Linked DNA regions of Homo sapiens: region 2 is linked to region 1. The links come from fine-mapping of genetic effects on gene expression. Tissue or cell type: whole blood. Region 1 holds a variant in brackets; the other region holds the start of a gene. All regions are shown on one strand. Distances are between the middles of the regions.

Region 1 (8,102 bases):
CCTTGACCTGGTGACAGGAAAATGAGATTGTTGCCTGAATGTGAGCTGTTTCCTTCCCCTTGCCAAAAACAAAACTGAAACACTTCATCTGGTGTTTGGGCCTCTGCTCCGCACCAGTCATTCGGGCGGCTTCCGCCTGACCGTCCATTCCAGCCTCCCAGGTTCTCCCAGGGGAGGTGCTGTGGCTGCCGGAATAGCCATGTTAACATCAGACCTCATTTATCTCATTGCAGTGTTTAATTTTCCCTCTTCCTTCAGACTACCAGGATTCTTGGAGTATTTTTCTTAGTGTAGGAGGCTTATTCTTTGTGGGAGAGTGGTCCGTCAAAAGGGAAGGTAATCCTGGACCAGAGTAAGAGTGTCACAGTCACATAAGTGGGCAGTTAGTGCCACTATTAGGTACAGAGTGGGACTCTGACTTCAGTGCCTGGCCTGGCCTGGGAGTGCTGTTTATTACATCCAGGACAGTAAGGCACACACTTCTCAGAAAATAATATCCCTCCCTCCCTCCCTTCCCCCCTCCCCCTCCCTCCCCCTTCCCTTTGTTCCTTCCTTTTTTCCTTCCTCTTGCCCTTTTCCTCTCTCCCTCAATTAATTAATGTTTATAACACATGTATTGCATGAATTCATTCTCTTGGAGGGAGGAATCCCCAAACCCTCTTGAGTGGATAGAGTGCATCTGTATATATTTGAAAAGATTCATAGATTACAAGTGAAAAATCAAAGGGCAGAGCTTTGGGCCTAGAATGACCTCAACTTTGCACCTGTGGCTTTTTTTTTTTTTTTTTTTTTGAGACAGAGTTTTACTCTGTCACCCAGACTGCAGTACAGTGGTGTGATCTTGGCTCACTGCAGCCTCCACCTCCCGGGTTCAAGTGATTCTCCTGCCTCAGCCTCCCAAGGAGCTGGGATTACAGGCATGCACAACCATGCCTGACTAATTTTTGTATTTTTGGTAGAGATGGGGTTTCACTTTGTTGGCCAGGCTGGTCTCGAACTCCTGAGCTCAGGTGATCCACCCACCTCAGGCTCTGGGATTACAGGCATGAGCCACTGTGCTCGGCCTTGCATCTGTAGCTTTTATGTGTATATTTGTGCTTGTGTTTGCAATGACTTCATACAAAGTTTTTCAAAGTGGGCGATACTGGCTGGGTGCAGTGGCTCACACCTGTAATCCCAGCACTTTGGGAGGCTGAGGTGGGCGGATCACTTGAGGCTAGGAGTTCGAGACCAGCCTGACCAACATGGTGAAACCCCGTCTCTACTAAAAATACAAAATTAGCTGGGCATGGTGGCAGGCACCTGTAGTCCCAGCTACTCAGGAGGCTGAGGCAGGAGAATCCCTTGAACCCAGGAGGCAGAGGTTGCAGTGAGTTGAGATGGTGCCACTGCACTCCAGCCTGGGCAACAGAGCGAGATTCCATCTCCAAAAAAAAAAAACCCCAAAAACCAAAAAACTAAAGTGGCGATACCATGGGAAAGGCTTTGGAATGTGTGCATTTGTGGAGTAGGTGTCATAGTTTACCTTTCTGTATTTGAATTTTTTTGATGAGCACATTATTTTTTATTTTGAAAGCTAATATTATTTATTGTAAAGACGATATGATATAGCAGAAGTGGGTTTTTTTTTTTTGGTTTTTTTTTTTGGATACAGGGTTTTGTTCTGTTGCCCAGGCTGAGGTGTAGTGGTGCGATCACAGCTCACTGCAGCCTTGACCTCCTGGGCTCAAGTGATCCTCCCACCTCAGCCTCCCAAGTAGATGGGACCACAGGTGCATGCCACTACACCTGTCTAAGTTTTTACATTTTTTGTAGACACAGGATCTCCCTATGTTGCCCAGGCTGGTCTCAAACTGGGCTCAAGGGATTTTCTCACCTTGGCCTCTCCAAGTGTTGGGATTACAGACGTGAGCCACCACACCCTGCCTGGAAAATACTTTTTAAACTTTTTACTATGGAAAATTTCAAACATAAATAAAAGTAGAAGCAGCCAGGCGCGGTGGCTCATGCCTGTAATCCCAGCACTTTGGGAGGCTGAGGTGGGCAGATCACCTGAGGTCAGGAGTTTGAGACCAGCCTGGCCAACATCATGAAACCCCATCTGCACTAAAAATACAAAAATTAGCCGGGTGTGGTGGTGGGTGCCTATAATCCTAGCTACTCAGGAGGCTGAGTCAGGAGAATCGCTTGGACTGAGGAGGCAGAGCTTGCAGTGAACTGAGATCACACCACTGCACTCCAGCCTGGGTGACAAGAGTGAAACTCCGTCTCAAAAAAAAAAAAAAAGTAGACCAGGCGCAGTGGCTTATGCCTGTAATCCCAGCACTTTGGGAGGCCGAGGCAGGCAGATCACAAGGCCAGGAGTACGAGACCAGCTTGGCCAACATAGTGAAACTCTGTCTCTACTAAAAATACACACAAAAAAATTAGCCGGGCGTGATGGTGGGTGCTTGTAGTCCCAGCTACTTGGGAGGCTGAGACAGGAGAATTGGCTGAACCCAGGAGGCAGAGGTTGCAGTAAGCCGAAATAGTGCCATTGCACTCCAGGCTGGGCAACAGAGTGAGACTCCGTCTCAAAAAAAAAAAAAAAAAAAAAAGTGGAGCCGGGCACGGTGGCTAAGGCCTGTAATCCCAGCACTTTGGGAGGCCGAGGCGGGTGGATCACGAGGTCAGGAGATCGAGACCATCCTGGCTAACATGGTGAAACCCTCTCTCTAATAAAAATACAAAAAAAAAAAAAAAAATTAGCCTAACACGGTGAAACCCCGTCTCTAATAAAAATACAAAAAAAAATTAGCCGGACATGGTGGCAGGTGCCTGTAGTCCCAGCTCCTCAGGAGGCTGAGGCAGGAGAATGGTGTGAACCCGGTAGGCGGAGCTTGCAGTAAGCCGAGATCGTGCCACTGCACTCCAGCCTGGGTGACAGAGCGAGACTCCACCTCAAAAAAAAAAAAAAAAGGGGGGGGGGCGGAGAGAATAATGGACCATCTAGCACCAGTTACCCAGCTTAAATGATAACCAGCACACATCTACTTGTCCTTCATCTTTAGCTCCCATCTTTTGGGGAAGTATTTGCAAGAAAATCTCATGCCTTGTGTCATTTCACTTGTTGACACTCCTGCATACATGTCTAATGTTTAACTGAAATGGAAATTAT[G/GA]AAAAAAAAAAAACTACTGTGGAATTAATGGAAATTGAACAAAGAAAATCTTTGTTTCATAATCTTACTGCTCAAACACAACTTATCATTTTTCCCTGGTTCATTTATTTCTTTGCCCCTTTGTATACTTATTTTTACATGATTTTAGTAATAGGGTGCATTCTATAATGTCAGAGGTTGCAGTGAGCCAAGATCGCGCCACTGCACTCCAGCCTGGGCGACAGAGACTCCATCTCAAAAAAAATAAAAACTTAACTTTGTGGTATGAATAATTTTCCATGTTGTTGTATACGCTTTATAATCACTAATCCAAATCTTAATTGGGGCATAATAGGTCCCTCATCTGAAATTATAATTTGTAAAAAAACTCCAATGTATACAAGGGAATTTTTTTAAAAGCAGAATTGTAACCTTAAAAAATAATTTTCTAAGAGGACTCCTACATTTTGCTCTGCAAAGAACATTTAAAAGGAGGTTTGTTCTTTGGAAGGTGTTTATAAACATGGCTTTGATACCAGGCAACTGAGAGAGGCGGTTGTGGCCGCTGCGGTTCCCTGAGGGCACAGAGCATGGGTGATCTGTTGGAGCCAGGCAGGGCCTGGGCAGGGGATTAATGGTGTGGCAGGGACTCTCCCTCCCCTCGGAGATGAGGAGCACTAATGACAAGGCAGCAGTAATGATGTGAACTGATAATTTATTCTAAAGACTTAACCTTCCCAGATCTGTATTTATTTCCCCAGGTACCTTTTAAAAAATTAAAATATGCTACGGCTTGAGAGATTTACCAAGACGGATGAAATCTTTGTATCTTGTTTTAAGAGGATCCACAGCTGGTTCCCGAGACTCCTTCTGGGGTACCTTGTTACGTGGGTGACTGTAATGGGTAACTGGTGCTGAATTGTGTGTGCATATGTACTTTTTTTTTTAAGTAAAGGAAAATGTGTGTAGCTGGATGGGCCTTGCCTATAGAGCACTGGGACCCTGAATCAAGAGAAATAAGGGTGGTCCTGGTTGGTGAGTCCGTTATGTACTGAAATGAGGACATGAGTGCCCAATCCACCTTCCTTTCTTTCCCTCCTCCTAAGGGCAGATGCCCCATCCATGCTTAGAGGCTCCCCTTTCCTGCCTTCCCAGGAACCCTTCTTGATCTTCCTCCCATCTCTCTAGCTGTTCTTCTCTGTCTTTCTTGCAAGGTCATCATCTATTATTAATTTTTTATTAATTTTCTTTGAGACATAGTTTCGCTCTTGTTGCCCAGGCTGGAGTACAACAGCGCGATCTCAGCTCACCACAACCTCTGCCTCCCTAGTTCAAGCGAGTCTCCTGCCTCAGCCTCCTGAGTAGCTGGGATCACAGGCATGCACCACCACACCCCGCTAATTTTGTATTTTTCGTAGAGACGGGTTTCTCCATGTTGGTCAGGCTGGTCTTGAACTCCTGACCTCAGGTGATCCGCCTGCCTTGGCCTGTCAAAGTGCTGGGATTACAGATGTGAGCCATCGTGCCTGGCCTAATTTTTATATTTTTAGTAGAAATAGGGTTTTGCCATGTTAGCAAGGCTGGTCTTGAACTCCTCACCTCAGGTGATCCACCCGTCTTGGCAAGGTCATCATCTATTTAACTGTTAAATATGGGAGTTTCCTATTATTCCATCCTCTTCTTCCATGATCTCATCTCTGTTTCACCTTCCTCTCTATGCAAACCACCGTGTGCAGGTGAGCCACAGATTTGAATCACTTCTGAGCTCTCTTCCCACGTATCTGACGACTCTCTTGGTGTTTCCCTGTGGTGTTCCCTGACAGGTGTTTCCCTGTCAGAAGCACCTCAACATGTGCAAGTCACCTCCTCAGACTTGGTCCTGTTCCCGTATTCTGTATTTCATCATATAGAGCCTCTATTTGTCCAGTTAAGTGCTTTAGAATCCCAGGAGCCGTCTTCGATACCCGACCCCTCTTGCCCACCCCGTTTTCTAATCTCTTTTCAGATTATCTTGATTTTTACTTTTGCAAGTCTGCCCACTTCTTCAGCTCCACTTCTGCTCTAGTCCTTTCCTGGCTGCCAAAATTTTCATCTGCAGCCTCCTGTCTGCTCTGCCTGTTTCTGTCCTTCCTTTCCTCCGGCTTGTTTTCCACACCAAAGCCAGAATGATTATTAATCCAGCAAGGCTGATCTTGTCACACCTCAGTTAAAAAACCCTTTAGCACTGTGCAGTGGCTCTTAGGTTACAGAAAAACTCTCTAACACAGCATGTCACAAGGCATTGCAATGTCCAGTGACCACTCAGTCCTCCCACCCATTTGGATCTCATTCCAGTCCAGCCCCGTTCATCTCTGCCCACTTTCCTGAATGCACCCAGCTCATTGTGCCACAGGACCTTTGCACACAACATTTCCCCTGCCTGGATGGTCTTCCTCCCTGCCCTGCCCTACCCTGCTAGCTGTCTTCTTGAAACTTAGATGACAGTTATCAGTTTCTCAAGAAACTTTTCCTGATGTCCTGACCAGGCCAAGCATCTGGCTGCTCAGGGGACCATATGTTAATATCTCTTGCATGAAACCTTTTCTTACAGTTGCAACTTTACATTTCCTTGTTACTTCCACTTCTCCCACTGAATTAATTGTAACGTTCCTAAAAGCAGGGACAACGTCTGTTTCCATTTTCCATGATAACATAGCTTCAAGCACTGTCTGGAAGATAGTGGGCACCCAGCAAATGTTACTTGAACCTCCTGGGTTCAAGTAATCCTCTTGTCTCAGCCTCCTGAGTAGCTGGGACCATAGGCACACGCCACTGCGCCCAGCTAATTTTTTTTTTTTTTTCAGATAGAGTCTAACTCTTTCACCTAAGCTGGAATGCAGTGGCGCGATGTTGGGTCATTGCAGCGTTCGCCTCCTGGATTCAAGTGATTCTCCTGCCTCAGCCACCCAAGTAGCTGGGATTACAGGCACATGCCACCATGCCTGGCTAGTTTTTGTATTTTTAGTAGAGATGGGGTTTCACCACATTGCCTAGGTGGGTCTTGAACTCCAGCGCTCAGGCGATCTCTCTGCCTTGGCCTCCCAAAGAGCTGGGATTACAGGCGACAACCACCATGCCCGGCCTAGTTTTTTTCTGTTTTATAGAGATGAGGGTCTCACTTTGTTGCCCAGGCTGGTCCCAAACTGGTCTCAAGCCATCCTCCTGCCTCGGCCTCCCAAAGTGTTGGGATTACAGGGATGAGCCACTGTGCCCAGCCCAGGAAATGTTTCCTGAATGAATGAACAAGAAACAGAGAAAAAGTTTGTAAACTGGCTTTGTAAAAATGAGGCTATTTTCTCTAGAAGAGTTCATACAACCCTCAGGAGACCAAAACTTTAATTTAGCAATGATAAAGGGTAGATTCCCAGCGGTAGTAGCCCAAAGAAGAGACTGCAAGACCAAGCCAGAGTTCTCATTACATTCTGGGTTCTGGGTAAGACCCTGCCAGAGTGTGAGTGTTGGGGGGCCGCGGGGAGGTGGAGTAAGCAGAGTCAGCATTGGTGCCCCAACAGGAATACCAGTGTTCACTGTTGGCCTAGCTGGGTAGAAGAGACTTTCTGTTGTTAGGCTCTGGCTAAGGTTGGAAGCCGAAGAGCCATCGTAACAGTAAATCCTGGAATCATCTGGCTTCCTTTACTGCAAAGGAAATGTGAAAGAGCCTTCTCTCTAGACCTGGGGTGGACTCCAGCCTGTGTGTGTCTGAGTTTCAGGGAACTGGGGAATGGAAAGGAGACTGTTTACTCTCTGCCCTTCTGGAATTTCCCCCGGTTCCCTTCCTCTGTGTACCAGTGTTTGCAGTTATGTGTAGAATGAACACGGGCCTGTTAATGAAGTGCTGCTTACTCTCACCCGCTTTTGATGGGCCTATGGGATTGAGGGCAGAGGGAGGCAGGAAGAAGGAGGCTTGTTTCACTAAGCAGGTCTTATGTTAATGGCCAAATCAGTCACATCTTCATCGGGCTTCAGAGACTCTTAATCCTGGCGTCCTTGGCCTCCCTTTAAAAAATTCTCCTTTCTTTCTTGTTTCATGTTTCTCAAATTTCCAGGTAAATCCTATCATTTGTATTCTGAATTAGGAACCAAAAGAAAACAGAACTATTTTTCCTTTGACATGCACATACATTTCGGTGGTATGGGGTGGGGAGGGACAATAATGAGAAAATACCCCAAACTAGAAAGTTCTTTCGTACATTTGCTGTGAAACTCTCCAGGCAAGAGTTCTGGATTTTGTAACGGAATTGCATTATAGTAGCATGGTCTGGCAGTTACAGTTTATGTAGTTTTTTTTCTTTTGTTGGAATAAGGACGGCAATTTCCATGCCCTATTTATCTATATTTATTAGTACCACATGCAAACAACATATTTTTAAAAATCCAGGTCAAGAAAGGGAAAAAGTAACTCTTAGAAAAATATGACTCATCCTTGCTGCACGTACAAACTCTTCTCAATAGGAAATTATTAACTTGAAGCCACTTGCAAATCTGAGGCTTTGAAGGGAGGAAAAATAAGAGTGAGAGTTATTCCCCAAACAGCTTGACTGATGTGTCTTCTACCTTTTTATATTTTAAACTATATTTTGTCAAATTCTTGCAAGTTTTTATTGTTATAGTTGCTGTTAGTACCTTAGGCATGCTGGCATGGAAAAAAACAAAACCTTTTTTTTTTTTTTTTTTTTTGAGACAGTGTCACTCTGTCACCCAGGCTGGAGTGCAGTACCCTGATCTCAGCTCACTGCAGCCTTGACCTCCTGGGCACAAGCGATTATTCCGCCTCAGCCCCCCAAGTAGTTGGGAGTATAGGCAGGTACCACCACGCCCAGCTAATTTTTGTGTTTTTAATAGAGGCAGGGTTTCACCATGTTGCCCAGGCGGGTCTCGAACTCCTGAGCTCAAGCGAACCATCTGCCTCGGCCTCCCAAAGTGCTAG
Region 2 (8,102 bases), 66 kb before region 1:
CATTTGCAGGTATTGGCGGTGGTGGCGGCTGCAGCTGTTGCTGCTGGTGGTGATGTTGATGATGCTTTCTTGGAGTATGGTTTTGCTTCTCCAAGTTAAAAGTTTTATTACTCTGCATTTTTGCACCCTCAACTTCGATTGAAGACAGCAAAGTGCCTCCCACTTCCCTCTAACCTGGACTTCTCCTCTACCGACTGGTCTCTCCTCGGAGTAACGGCGACGCTACACGGCCTCTCCCGTCCCGAGAAAAGCTTTTTTTTGTTTTGTTTTGTTTTGAGACGGAGTCTTGCTCTGTCGCCCAGTCTGGAGTGCAGTGGCGCGATCTCAACTCACTGCAAGCTCCCCCTCCCGGGTTCACGCCATTCCCCTGCCTCGGCCACCCAAGTAGCTGGGACTACAGGCGCCCGCCACCATGCCCGACTTTTTTTGTATTTTTAGTAGAGACAGGATTTCACCGTATTAGCCAGGATGGTCTCGATCTCCTGACCTCGTGGTCCACCCGCCTCGGCCTCCCAAAGTGCTGGGATTACAGGCGTGAGCCACCGCGCCCGGCCAAGATAGGTACTGTTTTACAGACAAGGGATAGCTAACTAAAGCCACTAGGTGTAGCTGACATGGTCAGTAAGTGGTGAAAATAACGTAACACCCAGACAAACTGATTCAGAGCCACTTTTTTCTCTCTTCTCTTCTTTTTTCTTTCCTTTCCTTTTCTCTCTCTCTCTTTCTTTCTTTCTTTCTTTTTTTTTTTTTTGAGACACGGTCTCTCTCTGTTGCCCAGGCTGGTGTGCAGTGGCATGATCATAGTTCACTGCAACCTTGAACTCCCAGGCTCAAGTGAGCCTCCTACCTCAGCCTCTCGAGTAGCTGGCACCACAGGCCCACACCACCATGCCCAGCTAGTTTTTTCATTTTTACTTTTGTAGAGATGAGAGTCTCATCATGTTGCCCAGGCTGGTCTGAAACTCCCAGGTTCAAGCAGTCCTTTAGCCTTGGCCTCCCAAAGTGCTGGGATTACAGGTGTGAGACACGGTGCTGTCCCTGAGCCACCTAATTATCCATTCTGTTATACTGACTGCTGCTTATGTGCCTTCACTTCATTTTGAGCAACGTGGGGCCAGAGTCTGTCTAATTTGTCTTAATAGTCTCACCCCACCTCCCTAAGCAACACACATAATTTGGTAGCAAATAATTCCTTGCTGAATTGAACAGAAGGTGTATTTAGTGACTTCTACGTTTCCTTGCAAATCTGAAATTTTATGATTATAAGATCCGGTGAATTTTGCTGAATGTCGACTTGGGTCTTCATGCAAACTTTCTTCATGAAGTCTTCACGCCAGCTGGATTCCTCAATTGTCATTTATCTGTCCTACCCCAAAAATCCTTCAGTGCTACTGAATATTGCCTTTCAGCAATTACCCAAATTCAGTCTTTCTCTTTTTTTGGGGTGGCGGGAAGGGGACTGAGTTTTGCTCTCGTCGCCCAGGCTGGAGCACAGTGGTGCGATCTCAGCTCACTGCCACCTCTGCCTCCCAGGTTCAACAATTCTCCTGCCTCAGCCTCCTGTGTAGCTGAGATTATGGGTGCCCGCCACCACGCCTGGCTAATTTTTGTATTTTTAGTACAGATGGGGTTTCACCATATTGGCCAGATGGTCTCGAACTCCTGATGTACGGTGATCCACCTGCCTTGGCCTCCCAAAGTGCTAGAATTACAGGCGTGAGCCATTGCACCTGGCTCAACCTTTCTCACCACTCAGTCTCTTCATTATCTAGAACGTGCCTGTGCTACCTGCCGTAACAGAGTATGGCTGGAGGCTATTTCTCATTTTCTAGTTTATCATATCAATTTTTTTTTTTTGAGACAGAGTCTCACCCTGTCATCCAGGCTGGAGTCCAGTGTGCAATCTTGGCTCACTGCAACCTCCGCCTCCCAGGTTCAAGCGATTCTCAAGCCTCAGGCTCCTGATTAGCTGGGACTACGGGTGTGTGCCACCATGCCCAGCTAATATTTGTATTTTTTGTAGAGATGGGTTTTCACCATGTTGCCCAGTCTGATCTCGAGCCCCTGACAGTCTGATCTGCCCGCCTTGGCCTCCCAAAGTACTGGGATTACAGGTGCCAGCCACCGCACCCTGTCAGATTTTATTCTTTTAATGTGCAGTGTGTGCTCTTTGCTTGTCCCTTCTCCCCTTTGGTGAACACTTACTCAGATGCCACTAAATCTTTTCTGCAGGGTTGTTAAAAAAAAGCAACAAAAGATAAAAAATGAAATATGAAAGAAGAAAACAAACCGAAACCAACAAATGCTAGTAAGTCAAGGAAATAGTCTCTAATTTATCTAGAACAGAATTAGTAAAACTGCCATCAATGGAACTGGAGAAGTTTTAGTTATAGTAGTTTTATAAATGAGACTAATATAGGGTTTAATGTACAAAGACAGGACTGTATCTCCTTGAAAGTTAATCTCTTGGATTTGGAGTGGTACTACAAAAAGTAGAGACTAAGTGTTCAACCTATTTATTTATTTAGATACAGAGTCTCACTCTGTCGCCCAGGCTGGAGTGCAGAGGCGTTATCATGGCTCACTGCCACCTCCGCCTCCCGGGTTCAAGCAATTCTCCTGCCTCAGGTTCTGGAGTACCTGGGATTACCCGCACCCGGACCATGCCCGGCGAATCTTTTTTTTTTTTTTTTTTGTAGTTTTAGTAGAGATGGGGTTTCACCAGGTTGGCCAAGTGGGTTTCGAACTCCCGACCTCAGGTAATCCACCTGCCTCTGCCTCCCAAAGTGCTGGGATTACAGGCGTGAGCCTCCACGCCCCACCAGCCAATTTAATTTGTATGCATGATAGAATCCATCCCAATTCGAAGACCCAAAAATAACAGATTAGTACAAGTCTTTGAGGCTAATTACGTCATTAGTATTAATTTTAATCAATGGTGATTAAACTGAGCCTTCATTCAACTTGTCCAGAACATCAGTCAAGAATGTCTATTTAAAATGTTCTTGGAGGCCGGGCGCATTGGCTCACGCCTATAATCTGAGCACTTTGGGAGGCCAAGGCAGGTGGATCATCTGAGGTTAGGAGTTTGAGACCAGCCTGGCCAACATGGTGAAACCCCATCTCTATTAAAAATACAAAAATTAGCCAGGCATGGTGGTGGGTGCCTGTAGTCCCAGCTACTCAGGAGGCTGAGGAAGGAGAATTGCTTGAACCTGGGAGGCAGAGGTTGCAGTGAGCCAAGATTGAGCCACTGCACTCCTGCCTGGGCTACAAGAGTGAAACTCTGTCTCAAGCAAGCAAATAAATAAATAAATAAATAAATAAATAAAGTTATTGGGCAGGCACAGTGGCATTCGCCTGTAGTCTCAGCTACTTGGGAGGCTGAAGCAAGAGGACTGCTTGAAGCTGGGAGTTCGAGCCCAGCCAAAGCAACCTATCCAGACCCATCTCTTAAAAAAAATATTTCTCTGCCAGGTGCGGTGGTTCATGCCTGTAATCCCAGCACTTTGGGAGGCCAAGGTGGGCGGATCATTTGAAGTCAGGTGTTCGAGACCAGACTGGTCAACATGGAGGAACCCTGTCTCTACTAAAAATGCAAAAATTAGCCAGGCGTGGTGGTGCACGCCTGTAATCCCAGCTACTCGGGAGGCTGAGGCAGGAGAATTGCATGAACCGGCGAGACGGAGGTTGCAGTCAGCTGAGACTGCACCACTGCACTCCAGCCTGGGCGACAGAGCGAGGCTCCATCTCAAAAAAAAAAAAAAAAATATCATCTATCTATCCACCTACCTACCTACCTACCTACCTGGATTATAATTCATTAAGTTCTCTGTGCCCTGTAGTTGTAGATTAAGGGAATGCGATTGGATTAGTGTGGAGGGGCTTTTTATGGAGCCAAGCAGGAGTTTTTAAGCTTTTGTACTTTTGCTTCATGTCACAAGGACAGATGCCCCACAAAGGCTGAGATGTTTGTGGTCCTGGATCTTAGAACAGTGCCTGGCACATAATAGGCATAAGGTTGCCAGGAAATAGAAATACAGATACTCAATTCAATTTGATCTTCAGATAATCAAAAAATACTTTTTTTAGTATAAATATGTCCCATTCTGTATTTGGGACATACATATTACACTGTTGTTTATCTGAAATTCAAATTTAAGTGGGTGTCCTGTACTTTATCTGGCAACCCTACTAAAGGAGCTCAATTAAGTATTTGCTGACTTAACAGTCTGAAGGTCTCGTTTCACCTGTAAAATGGGGCTAGTACCTGTCCCTGCCTCTATAAGGTTGATGGGCAGAGTAGGTGGCATTCAGTGAGCCCTCAATTTATTTGATTGCCTGGGACCATCCGGTGAGCAGAAACCCTTCCACTTTCAACTACAGAGACGATAAAAAGGCCTCCTCGAGGCCAGAGGTGCCCAGGCCAGGCCTAGGTGGCCCGCACCTGCGAGCCTGGCCAGCCTCTTCCGGGTCAGGTGACCGCGCGCGGTCACGTGACCCGGCCCGAGTGCGGGCGGTGGAAGGCGGAAGTAGGAGAGGAGTTCGGCGCCGCTTCTGTGGCCACGGCAGGTAGCGAGCGCTGGCGCGGGGGGCGCGGTGGGCTGGCTGCCTGCACGGGGCGGGCCGGGGGCGGCGGGCGGCGCGGGGTGGGCCGGGGGCGGCGCGGCCCGGGCGTCGGGGGGCGGCGGCTTCCTGTGGGAGGGGCCTGGCGCGGCGGTTCCGGCCTCCGAGGAGGGGTGTCCCGGCTCCCGCCCGAGTGGGGTGGGCGCGCCGCGGCCCGCGCGGGGGTTGCTCCGAAATGGGTGCCCCGGCCGCCAAGGGTGCAGCTGGAGCGAGTCCTCCCGGAAGGGGAGAGGAGCTTAGGTTCCCAGGCATGGAGAGGAGCGATCTTTGTGGAGGGATCGGGACCAGGGGAAGGGGCGACTTGGAACTGAGCTGGAAGGGGGTGCCTGAAAATGGGTTTATGGCGTGGAGCCAGAGGGAAAAAGATGCTGCCTGGACCCCCTCTGAGAGTCTCTCCCTTCCTTCCTGTTTGGAAATGATTGTTACCCGAGACTTTGATGACGGTCCCATTCAGTTTTTAAACTTCAGGAGGGATCACAGAATCTTGATCGTCTTGCTTCCCTCGCGCCCACTTAGTCCTGCGTGGGTAGGGTTTCCACTTCTTGGGAGCCTAGCCCTTCAGCTCATTTTTCTTTGAGATTTTCCCTGAACGGGCCATCATCGAGGCTTTAAAAAACAAAAAAAGAAAATAAATTAAAAAAATAAGTGTGGGCACTTTGCCTGTAAAATGGCTTTTAGCTTACACTGTTGACCTAGCCCAGCGTTACCTCAGCAACATAGTGACTGCTGAAATCTTGGACAGAGAAGTGTCTACCTAGACTGCTTTATGACTTTTCTCTTTCTTCCGTTTAAATTATTCAGTTTCCCTTAGCTTATCTTGTGACTGCTTATCTTGACGAACTGTAACTAGGTAGGGTGCCTGAGAGGTCTGTGTTATGTTCCTTAGAACTGTGACCTGGATCATGATTTTGAGATTGAATACTTGTGTTAAAGCCTGTTCATCTTCCTGTTTCTCATGTTTACTAAAATTTGCAGAAGCAAAAGGAGTTTCATGAGTGCAGTGTAACTGGAACGAATGTTCAAACTGGACATTCACAGCAGCCAGCATCGTTTTGGGTTACAAGTAGGAAAAAGTACTTTCCTAATGTATTATGAGTTCAAGTTTTTGGAGTTATTTGACAAACATTTAAAAATTAGTTTTTGCAGCAGCGCCTATGAGTGAGGTTGGGAAGATGTATTCTCATTTCACAGGGAACAAACAGACTTACGAGAGACGACTTGATTTTTTAAAACAATTTATTGCTCTTTCTTGTTTGCTGGCCTCTTCCTGCTAGATTGCAAATCCTTCAAGGGCAGGTTTCATATTTTATTTGGCTGCTAGCCTAGTGCCTGGCATGTTGTGAGCACTTGATAAATATTTGGTGAATAAATGCATTTCTAAAAGTCACACCGGCGTAAGTGGTGACAAAGGATTTGAACCCAAGTCTTCTACTCTTTTTCTTGTCAGAGAAGCTTGTGATTATCTGTGTCATTGGTCCATATGAAAACAGGCTCGAGAGAAAGGCTTGGATTGGCTTCTCAGTCTCTTTCACTTCATGATTACTTTCCCATTTACAAAGAGCGTATACCAACATCTCACTTAACCTTCCCTTTGAAATTGGGATGGTCAGTATTGTCCCTATATCACATGAAGAGACTGAGGCTTAATGAAGTCCTTACTTTAGATTTCAGAGCTAGTAAATGAGTAGGGACTCAAGCCCAGACCCTTAATCCTTAGATCCATTCTTTTTCATTTATTGACACAATAGAAAATTTTATTTTTATTTTATTTTGAGACAGGATCTTACTCTGTTGCCCAGGCTGGAGTGCAGTGGCACAATCACGGCTCACTGTAACCTTGACCTGCCTGGGCTCGGGTGATCCTCCCATGTCTGCCTCCCAAACAGCTGGGACTACAGGTGGGTGCCACCTCGCCTGGCTAATTTTTGTAGAGACAGGGGTTTTGCTATGTTGCCCGGGCTGTTTTCAAACTCCGGGGCTCAAGCGATCCTCCCACCTCGGCCTCTCAAAGTGTTGCAATTACAGGTGTAAGTCACCATGCCCAACTGAAAGTTTTATTTTTACATAATTTTTCAGGAATAAAAAGTGTAACATTTTAAGGAAAAAGATCACACAGAAAAAGTTGTGAATGTAGAATGTGAGTAAATGAAGTTTAGAAAACGCTGTACTCTACCATAGCTTCCTCTTCCTGGGAAAACATTCTTTCATTCAGTGAATATTTATAAGTACCCACTCTGTCTTTGCCAGGCATTGTTGTAGAGTCCAGTATGGTGTACACTAGCCACATGGGGCTGCTGAGCACTGGAGCTATGCTGTGAGCATAAAATACATTCTGGATTTTGAAGACTTAGCATGAAGAAAAGTAAAATGTCTCATTGATACTTTTTATGTTATAGTAAACGATCATATAATGTATAAACATGTATGATAACATTTTGGATTTATTGGGTTAAATACAACGTAATTATAAATAGTTGGTCAGACATGGTGGCTCATGCCTATAATTCCAGCACTTTGGGAGGTCAAGGTGGATAGATTGCTTGAGCCCAGGAATTTGGGACCAGCCTGGGCAACATGGTGAAACCCTGTCTCTACAAAAAATACAAAAATTAGCCAGGTGCAGTGGCGCCCGCCTGGCTACTCAGGAGGCTGAGGTGGGAGGATCACCCAAGCCTGGGGAGGTGGAGGCTGCAGTGAGTTGTGATCGTGCCACTCATTGCACTCTAGCCTAGGTGACAGAGTGAGACCCTGTCTCAAAAAAAAGAAAAAGAAAAAGAAAAAAAGTTTCACCTTTTTGTCTTTTTTTTTCCCACTTAACCTTGACTTGAAACCCAGCACTTTTTTCTTTTTAAAATGTATTTCCTAGAAAAATAAAAAATTATAAATGTGGCTTGCACTTGTGGCTCCCATCTTATTTCTATTGGACAAACCTGTTCTGAATGCCAGGAATATAGCAGTACAAGAAAGGTAAGGATCCCCACCCTTGTGGATCTTCAATTTTATTAGAGAAGGGCACATTGATAACTAAGTATAATATGTATTATGTTGTAATAAAGCAGGGAAGAGGGATGTAGGTTGCAGTTTAAATAGGATCCTGGCCAGGTGCGGTGGCTCACGCCTGTAATTCCAGAACTTTTGGAGGCTGAGACGGGCGGATCACTTGAGGTCAGGATTTCAAGACCAGCCTGACCAACATGGTGAAACCCCATCTCTACCCAAAATACAAAAATTAGCTGGGCTTGTTGGCACATGTGTCTAATTCCAGCTACTCGGGAGGCTGAGGCACGAGAATTGCTTGAGCTCGGGAGATGGAGGTTGCAGTGAACCAAGATCGCGCCACTGCACTCCAGCCTAGGTGATGAAGTGAGACTCCGTCTTGCTTTTGGAGAGATGGGGAGTTGGGGGCGGGGGTTCTCACTTTTGCCCAGGCTGGTCTTGAACACTTGGCCTCAAGACATCCTCCTGCCTCAGCCTCC

What was found. PIP is the estimated chance that this variant, and not a neighbour inherited with it, causes the effect.
Region 2: WWP2 starts here. The variant in region 1 is fine-mapped to the expression of WWP2 in whole blood (INTERVAL, PIP 0.97).

Annotation. Positions count from the first base shown.
Region 1 is chr16:69,823,997-69,832,098 of GRCh38, forward strand. The region is part of intron 4 of WWP2 (WW domain containing E3 ubiquitin protein ligase 2); the gene reads left to right. Among named protein-coding and RNA genes, the nearest start is that of WWP2, 66 kb to the left of the region's middle. RefSeq lists enhancers at 195-294, 305-374. The variant G/GA (reference allele first, on the strand shown) is at 3,158.
Region 2 is chr16:69,757,820-69,765,921 of GRCh38, forward strand. WWP2 (WW domain containing E3 ubiquitin protein ligase 2) reads left to right here and starts at 4,513. Exons shown (of 24, transcript NM_001270454.2): 1 at 4,513-4,572. It also overlaps the pseudogene NONOP1. RefSeq lists an enhancer at 4,318-4,896 and silencers at 4,600-4,739, 4,760-4,919, 4,940-4,989.